2 separate regions of the Homo sapiens genome follow, and region 1 is linked to region 2. Evidence: fine-mapped expression QTL. A gene starts in region 2. The other region holds a variant in brackets. All regions are shown on one strand. Distances are from middle to middle.

Region 1 (4,374 bases), 22 kb after region 2:
CTGCTTGGTCCTGAGGCCTGCGCTGCTGCAGGGTGAGCCCCACCCGGAGTTCAGCACGGACTCCCCCAGCCCAGGTGCGTTCATAGCCAGGCTGCTTGGTCCTGAGGCCCGTGCTACTGCAGTGGGCAGCCTGCCCTGTGGCTGTGTGTGGTCGGCCTGGGCACCATCTATTCAGGCTGGCACTGCAGGGCATCCGCTTCTCTCAGAGGCTTCTTGGGTGTGAATTCTTCAGGGTCCTGTAGCCTGTGGAAGGGCTGGTATTGTTCAGTAGTTCTGGTATTTTCCAAAGACCTATGTCTTCTCCCAGCCAGTATCAACTTGGCCTCTACTGTGTAAAACTGGAAAACTCTACTTTGTGAAGCTGAGTTGGGAGCATCGCTTGAGGCCAGGAGTTTGAGACCAGCCTGGGCAACATGGCGGAACCTCGCCCCTGCCAAAAAATTAGCCAGGTGTGGTGGTGTGCTCCTGTGGTCCAAGCTTTTCCGGAGGCCGAAGTGGGAGGCGTGCTTGAGCCTGGGAGGCAGAGCTTCCGGTGCCCCAGATGACTCCACTGCACTCCAGCCTGGGCGGCAGAGTGAGGCCATCTCAAAAAAAAAAAAAAGGAAAACTAAATATATTCACTGTAAGGGCATTTTGCATCTTTAAATGACCCACAAATCTGGCATGCATCAGCTGCTCTGCCTGTAGGTTCCTTCCCAGTGTTTGTCCAGAGGTGTATTTCCACACAGCGCTAGTCACGGCATACGTGGAAAACGTGGAAACCCTTCATGGATGTTGTCAGTTGGTCTATATTTTCTTTCTTTTTTTTTTTTTTGAGATGGAGTTTCACTTTTGTTGCCCAGGCTGGAGTGCAATGGCGCGATCTTGGCTCACTGCAACCTCCGCCTCCTGGGTTCAAGCAATTCTCCTGCCTCAGCCTCCCAAGTAGCTGGGATCACAGGCGTGCACCACCACGCCCAGCTAATTTTGTATTTTTAGTAGAGATGGTTTCTCCGTGTTGGCCAGGCTGGTCTCGAACTCCTGACCTCACGTGATCCACCCGCTTCGGCCTCCCAAAGTGCTGGGATTACAGGCGTGAGCCGCCACGCCCGGCCTTTGTCCATATTTTCTACATGGCTTCTGTAAACAGCTGACTAGGAGTCTGTGTGAATATCTTCATAGGTTCTGCTGTGACACTACTTGCTCGTGAGCATCTCCAGGTGTAAACAGCATCAGCTTCCCCCATTTTCCTTTAAAATCGCACATGTGGACGGACACCACGGGGACCCTGGACCCTGGGGAGCCCCGTCCTCACCCTTCTCACCAGGATGGCTGCTTGGTAGAGAGTGAGTTTGCAAAGTTGGCATTTGTTTAGTACAGAAGTTATCAGGTGTTCTGGCTTTAGAATCCCTTTATATATATATATATATACATATATTTAAGTGACAGGGTCTCACTCTGTTGCCCAGGCTGGAATGTGGTGGTACAATCAAAGTTCCCTGTAGCCTCGGCCTCCTGGGCTCATGGGATCTTCCCGTCTCAGCGTCTTAAAGCGCCGGGACCACAGGTGTGCACCACTGCCACCGGCTCTCAAGATTGCCACGCAGGGAGTTGCAGTGGGGGAAGGGGTTCCTGGGACTTTGAACGCTCCACCTCCCTCCTCTCCACAGTCCCCCAACCCCACCTCTCTAACGGGGTGGACGGCCGCCTCTTTCCATCCTTCGCTTGGCGCAGGGTGGGGAGAGTGACAGGTCTCCTTCCCTCATCTCGGCAGCTGCCATTTCATCGCTTACATAACGTGGGAGAAACATCCACCCACCCCCAGGCCTGTGTGAACATCACCACGGGGCCTTCTCCACTCTTCAGTTTTGTTAGTTACTTGATGTGCAGGGCTTTTTGTTGTAACTAGTGGGGGACGTGTGGTGGGGTGGGCTTCTGCCATCTCATTCAGGACCAGAACTTCAGTTTTCATCCCTATCTGTTCCCCCACCCCTTTGGAGATGGGGTCTCACTCTGTCACCCAGGCTGGAGAGCGGTGGTGCCATCACGGCTCACTGCAGCCTCCACCTCCTGC[A/G]GCCTCCACCTCTTGGGCTCAAGTGATCCTCCTGCCTCGGCCTCCCAAGCTCCTGGGACTACAGGCGTGTGCCACTGTGCTTGGCAGGGTCCATTCTTTTCCTCACACTTTATTTATTGAAGAGCCCAGGCCGTTTACCCTGCAGAGTCGGAATCTGTACAGGAGGGGCAGCCACACGAGTTCCCCGGTTTACTCTGAACTTAGGTGGCTTGAGGGCCCCAGTTAGACTGCGGCCACCGTTTGCCGGGCTCCAGATGGGACGTCCTTTCTATCAGAAGGCTCACAGTATCTCCTTTCCCGTTTCTTCCCATGTGAACATTGTTGCTGCTGAACACCTGAATATGTTAATCACTGGGGGCTTGCAAGATGGCAGTGTGCTAATTCCATCATCTAGTCAGTTAGCAGGAATAACTTAGGACCACGCCCTGCACCATATCAGCTATGTGGTGATCCCATTCACACAGGAAAGGTGGGACAAATGCTGGGGGTGGGCCGGGTGTGCTGTCTCACACCTGTCATCCCAGCACTTTGGGAGGCCCAGGCAGGCGGATCACGAGGTCAGAGATTGAGACCATCCTGGCCAACACGGTGAAACCCCGTCTCTACTAAAAATACAAAAAAATTAGCCAGGTGTGGTGGTGCATGCTTGTAATCCCAGCTACTTGGGAGGCTGAGGCAGGAGAATCACTTGAACCCAGGAGGCGGAGGTTGCAGTGAGCCGAGATCGCACCATTGCACTCCAGCCTGGCGACAGAGCGAGACTCCGTCTCAAAAATCAATCAGTCAATCAAGTGTCATCACTGAATGTTTGTGTGTGAACGTGGGGATTGGTCCTGCCCCATGCTCCCTCCTGAATCTCACTCCTGACCTCAGTTGCTGCACCTTGAGGTGTTTTCATGTGGGCTCTTGTGTCCTGACCCCGGCGGTTGTGGCCTCTTTGCTGTCTGGGAGTCAGGATTTTTCACACTCATGTCCTGCTCCAGACCTGGAATCAGCCAAGTCTCCAAGAAGCCCTGCTTTCTTTTCCTGCAAGACGGTATTTCAAGACCCGCCATGCGGCAGCGGGTTGGTCATGGTTACTGGGTTGGTCGTTGTTACTGGGTGTTTTCGTGGAGATACAGCCATACGCACAGGTGTGTTCACAAATGTTAATTCTAAAGGTCAAACACCCGGCCAGGCATAAGGGCTCAGCGGTAATCCCAGCACTTTGGGAGACCAAGACTGGTGGATCACCTGAGGTCAGGAGTTTAAGACCAGCCTGAGCAACAGGGTGAAACCCCATCTCTACTAAAAATGCGAAAATTAGCCGGGCATGGTGGCGCACACCTATAGTCCCAGCTAGTCGGGAGACAGACACGAGAATTGCTTGAACCTGGGACATGGAGGTTGCAGTGAGCAGAGATGGCGCTGCTGCACCCCTGCCTGGGTGACAGAGTGACACCCTGTCTCAAAAATGAATAGATAAATAAAGATAAAACACCTGCTCCTCTTGGTGTCTCCAGTTTGGATTTGGCCTGTGTAGCCTCTTCCTTCGCCTGTTGGTGGATTTGGCCTGCACGGATTCTGTGTGGCCTCTTCCTTCCCCTGTTGGTGGATTTGGCCTGCACGGATTCTGTGTGGCCTCTTCCTTCCCCTGTTGGTGGATTTGGCCTGCACGGATTCTGTGTGGCCTCTTCCTTCCCCTGTTGGTGGATTTGGCCTGCACGGATTCTGTGTGGCCTCTTCCTTCCCCTGTTGGTGGATTTGGCCTGCACGGATTCTGTGTGGCCTCTTCCTTCCCCTGTTGGTGGATTTGGCCTGCACGGATTCTGTGTGGCCTCTTCCTTCCCATGTTGGTGGATTTGGCCTGCATGGATTCTGTGTGGCCTCTTCCTTTCCATGTTGGTGTCCTTTTTTCCATGCCAGGAATCCTGGTTCTCAAGGGCGGGGTTGTTGGCACGAGCGTGATGCAGACTGCCTTTGCTGCCTTTCTCTTGCCCAGGGCTGAACATGGAGCTGGAAGACATTGCAAAGCTGAAGAGTAAGTGTTGCCCTCCCCGCCTCCTTGCAGCTGGGTGGGGCCTCCTCCTTGCGAGGAGGTGGGTGACACCTCCTCGACCCACAGTGATCCTGCTGCGCCTGGAGGGGGCCATCGATGCTGTTGAGCTGCCTGGAGACGACAGCGGTGTCACCAAGCCAGGGAGGTGAGAGGCGGGGAGCCAGCCCCTTCACTGCAGGCCCAGCCTAGAGCTAGAAACGGGCCATGGTGCAGTCCTGGGCTGTCACATCACGAGTGAGGCCTGTTTTCAGGCCTGTTTTCCCTTTTTGAGACCTGGGAGGAG
Region 2 (4,374 bases):
CCACACAGCTGGAGGAGGTCAGACTCTGGGTTGCAGAAGGAGAATGTGAGCAGAGGCCACAAAAGAGCGAGGAGCCAGTGCCCAGATGCCGAGATGCCCTCGCCCTCCCAGCTCAGCCCCAGGAACCGAGCCCATGGGGAGGGACCGTCAGGGAAAGGCTGTCAGGAAGGGCAGGAGGCGGCCCTGGAGAGGACGGCGCTGCCCTCAGGGGCAGGAGGGGAGTCCCCTCCGCTGAGAGCCCCCCCACCCCCAGTATCCCCGGGGGTGTCCAGGAGGAGGCGGAGGGAGGAAGCGCAGATGGACAGGACTCCCAGATAGGGTGGGGAGGTGTGGCCGGTGACACACACGGTCCCCTCCTGGCAGGTGCTGAAGTCACCTGGAGCCTCCAAGCCCGTGGGGCCTGAGGGGCGGGGTCAGGTCGGGCACGCGTGGGTGGGCGGAGTTCTGCGCCCCGGGCCAAGGCGCCCGAGTTGAACCAGTCAGCTCGGGAGAGGGACCGCGGCGACCTGTCCCGGGGGCGTAAGAAAAGGTGGGAGGGAGTGCGGCTCGTGAACGGGGGCGGCGATGGGAAGGAGGTGCGGCCCTTCGTCCTGTCCTCCCAAACGTCGAGTGAAAAACGAAGCGGGTTCTGCGGCCTCGCGGCGGAGCAGAGCGTTTCGGGAAGGGCGGGCCCAGCGTCCTCGCGCCCGAGGTCGCCCGGCAGCTCCCCTGCGTCCAGAATCCGCCCCCCGCCCGGGCCTGCGCCCGCCCCTCCGCCTGAGCTCCGCGCGGGACGGGCCGGGAGGCCGGGGTGGGCGCTACCTTCGAAGGCGGTGGGTCCGCCCCGCGGGAGGTGGAGGGGCGGGAGGGGCGGAGCCCTCTGGTCTCCGGAGGGTTTGGGGATCGCAGTCGCCCCTCCCCCATCCAGACCCCGCGGCGCAAAGGGCAGTGGCTTTTCTGGCCAGAGCAGGTGGCGCGGGCGTCGCAAAGGGTGGTCCCCGAGGCCGCAGCGGTGTGGGGGGAGGGCGCGGTCCCCCTCACTCCGGGCTCCGCCGTGTCTGGCCCGCCCCCCTCCTTCAGCGCCCCCTCCAGCCCCTGTGCTGCACTGGCGCGGGGAGCGCCGGGTTCCCGGCTGGGGCTTTGGCAGAGGGTCCCACCCTCTCCCCGCCTCCCCACGAAGGCTCTGGCGGACCCAGATCTCGGGTCGCCGGACGCCCCAGGGACCCCGCCCGCACATCGCGAGCGCGCCCACCCGGTCGCGAGCCCACGCCCGGGTCTGGGAGCCACCCTGCGGCAGTCGCGCCCTGCGTGGCACGCTGCTCCCCCAGGGGCGAGGCGCCCCCGCCCGACGTCCCGGTCCCGAGCGCTCCCCGGCGCGGCGCCTCGCAGCCCAGCGCCCCACCAGCCCCGCCGGCGCCGCAGACCCCAGCCTCGGGCGGGTCGGGCCCAGGCTTGCAACGCGCAGGGTAGGAGAAGGGAAATTGGCGTCCGCTGCCGGCCGCTGCCCCAGGCGAGGCCAGACGAGGCCTCTGCTCAGATCCCGCCGCCCCACAAAGCCCGTGGCCCCGGAGCCTACCGGAAATGGTGCTGGCCATGGTGCTGGCGGCGGTTGGGCCTGCGGAGGCTGGAGAGGCGCAAGTGGCGGCCGGAGCTGCAGACGGCTGGTGCTGCAGTGCCGGGGAGGGGAGGGGAGAGGAGTGGAGGGAGCGAGGGCGGGCGGGAGGCGGGCGCGGCGGGAGAGAGAGAGGGAGGGAGACAGAGGGAGAGAGAGAGAGGGTTGGGGGAAGGAGCGGGGGGAGGAGGGAGGGAGGGTTGGGGGAAGGAGAGAGAGAGAGAGAGAGACTGCGGGGGCGGGGGAAGGAGGGAGGGAGGAAGGGAGGGAGGAAGAGAGAGAGGAGCAAGCGCCTGGCTGCGGAAGGGGCCGCGGCTCTCAGGGGGAGAGGGCGGAGGAGGGGGGCTACCCGAACTGCAACAAGACCCCCCACCCTCCAACCGCTCACAGCGGGACAGCTGCTTCTCCAACTTGGCTTTGTGAGGCCTGAGAGTGGGGTGGGGGTGGAGATGAGCCCCCATTCCCCAGGGCAGGCGGGGCAGGGGCAATGCCGGAGGAGCAGGTCCCACCCATGGGGTGGGGCCGCAGAGCTCTTCGCCGCCAAGGCCGCTGTAGGCTGGGCTGGCGCCAACAGGGTCCAGGTCTGTGCCTGCCATCGGAGAGGATGCCACAGCCACAGGGGTGGGCGCTGGCCTGGAGGCCTCCAAGGGGCATCTCCTGTGAGCCCAGGGGATGGGCAGGATCTGAGCGGAGAAGAGTGAAAGTGGAGGAGTGAGGCCAGAACAAAGGCTTTGCCGTGAAAGAGGTGGTTTCCCGCCTGGGCTCAGACCTTCACTCACTGTGTGGCCCAGGCCAAGGGCAAGCGTCTGACCTCGCTGGGCCTTTGTTTCTCAGGGGTAAGATGAAACAATGATGCCCCCAGACGATGGAGAGGAGGGGTGCCAGGGTTGTGCGCACTTAGTGAGTGGGGGGCAACCTATCCTGCCTCCCCCTCTCCTCATAACTCCCAAAGGGAAAGCCTGGTAGGCAAACGGAGCGTCTTTGCCATTGCAGGGATGAAGCCACCGAGGCAGGGAGAAAAGTGCTTTGCCCTACAAGCAACTAAGTCATAGGGCCAGGAGCAAAACCCTGAAAACCTCAGGAGACTTGCAGAGCCATGAGGCTGGCTCAGCAACACAAAAGCCAGGGGCAAGCCTCAGCTCTAGCAGTGCGGTGGGAGCACCCAAGGCCAGTCACATCCTAGGGTGGCCTGGAGAGTCCTGACCCCTGACGTGCAAGCCGGCATCATCCCCGGGACTGTGAGTCTGGTGGGGGTGATGCCCAGGAATGTGACATTGTGTGGCCCAGAGGTACCCTTAAGACTGGAGGATCACCAGGCGGGCCCTGACCTCATCACAGGAGCCCTTTAAAAGCAGTTTCCTTTGCCTGGTTGAAGAAATCGGAGGGATCAAACCAAAGAAGGTTTTCTGTTGTTGAGATGAGGGGGCCACGTGGCAAGGATCTGAGAACTGCTCCCAGCCAACAGCCAGCAAGACAACAAGACCTTAACTGCAAGGAAGTGAGTTCTGCCAACAAGAAGAGAATGGGCTTGGAGGCAGGTTTGACCCCAGGGCCTCCACACAAGAACTGAGCCCAACTGCCCACTTGGTTTCAGCCTTGGGTTACTAAGAATTAGGAGGTAATGAATGAGAGTTGTTTTAAGCTGTTGGTTTTGTGGTGATTTGCTATGAAGCCATATCAAACTAATATACACACAGAGGTGTTGGCCCCTGGGCCATTCCTAGGAAGCCAGCTCTGCGAAGGAGGAAGAAGGGCAGAGAGGCACACAGAGCTGCCCACCACAGCAGCTGTGTCCTCCCTGTTGGCCACCACAGTAGCAGTTGGGGATGGTCAGCATCCTTCAGGCAGACTCCAGCCCCGGGTGCTGGAGCTCAGGTGCTAGGGATCAAGAGAAGTAGCCCTCTCTGGGACCTCCAGAGTCTTCTCATGTGGGTGGGGTAGGACCCACCCAGTCAGGCTCAGAGCACCGCAATGCCTCACACTCATTGTGACTCTGGCCAGGCCCTCTCTGAGCCTCTGTGTCCTCATCTGGAGCACAGGGACCAGGTGTGTGGAAGCCCGTGGCATAGTGCCAGGAACACAGTAGATGTGCACAGTGTGCACTAGCAGGAACACACAACAGGGGTACTGACTGTCAGCACCTAGGCAGGCACACGCAATGGGGTACTGACTGTCAGCCATACTGACTGTCAGCGTGCTAGCAGGCATACACAACAGCTGTACTGACAGCACACTAGCAGGCACATGCCATAGGTGTACTGACTCTCAGTGCACTGGCAGGCACACGCAATAGGAGTAATGACAGCATGCTGGCAGGCACACAATAGCTGTACTGACTGTTTGCCCCAATATAGTGCCAGGTCTTGGAGCAGATTTTGACTTCTCACCAAGATCAAATGCAGAAAGTGCACGAGCATTTCAAAGATGTTTTTCACATGCACATTAGTGCTAGTTAAAAAAATGTTTTGACTGGGTGCAGTGGCTCACAACTGTAATCCCAACACTTTGGGGGGCCGAGGTGGGCAGATCACCTGAGGTCAGGAGTTTGAGACCAGCCTGGCCAACATGGTGAAACCCCATCTACCCTAAAAATACAAAAATTAGCCAGGTGTGGTGGCAGGTGCCTGTAATCTCAGCTACTTTGGAGGCTGAAGCAGGAGAATCACTTGAATCCAGGAGGCAGAGGTTGCAGTGAGCCGAGATCCCACCACTGCACTCCAGCCTGGGCAACAATATCAAGACTCCACCTCAAAAAAAAAAATGTTTTTCATAAAGTGTGACTT

What was found. PIP is the estimated chance that this variant, and not a neighbour inherited with it, causes the effect. A credible set is the group of variants that fine-mapping cannot tell apart.
Region 1: its variant is the best candidate, but not a certain one, in a credible set for the expression of STMN3 in fibroblasts (GTEx, PIP 0.66).

The regions. Positions count from the first base shown.
Region 1 is chr20:63,674,111-63,678,484 of GRCh38, forward strand. It overlaps RTEL1 (regulator of telomere elongation helicase 1), which reads left to right. Exons shown (of 35, transcript NM_001283009.2): 11 at 4,035-4,073; 12 at 4,158-4,236. It overlaps RTEL1-TNFRSF6B (RTEL1-TNFRSF6B readthrough (NMD candidate)), which reads left to right. Exons shown (of 38, transcript NR_037882.1): 11 at 4,035-4,073; 12 at 4,158-4,236. LOC124904954 (a long non-coding RNA gene) reads right to left here and starts at 4,265. Exons shown (of 2, transcript XR_007067717.1): 1 at 3,534-4,265. RefSeq lists an enhancer at 2,403-2,547 and a cis regulatory region at 2,475. The variant A/G (reference allele first, on the strand shown) is at 2,054.
Region 2 is chr20:63,651,772-63,656,145 of GRCh38, forward strand. It overlaps STMN3 (stathmin 3), which reads right to left and starts at 1,653. Exons shown (of 5, transcript NM_015894.4): 1 at 1,556-1,653. The coding sequence starts at 1,574. RefSeq lists enhancers at 1-356, 1,633-2,312, 2,313-2,991 and silencers at 1,331-1,420, 1,441-1,490.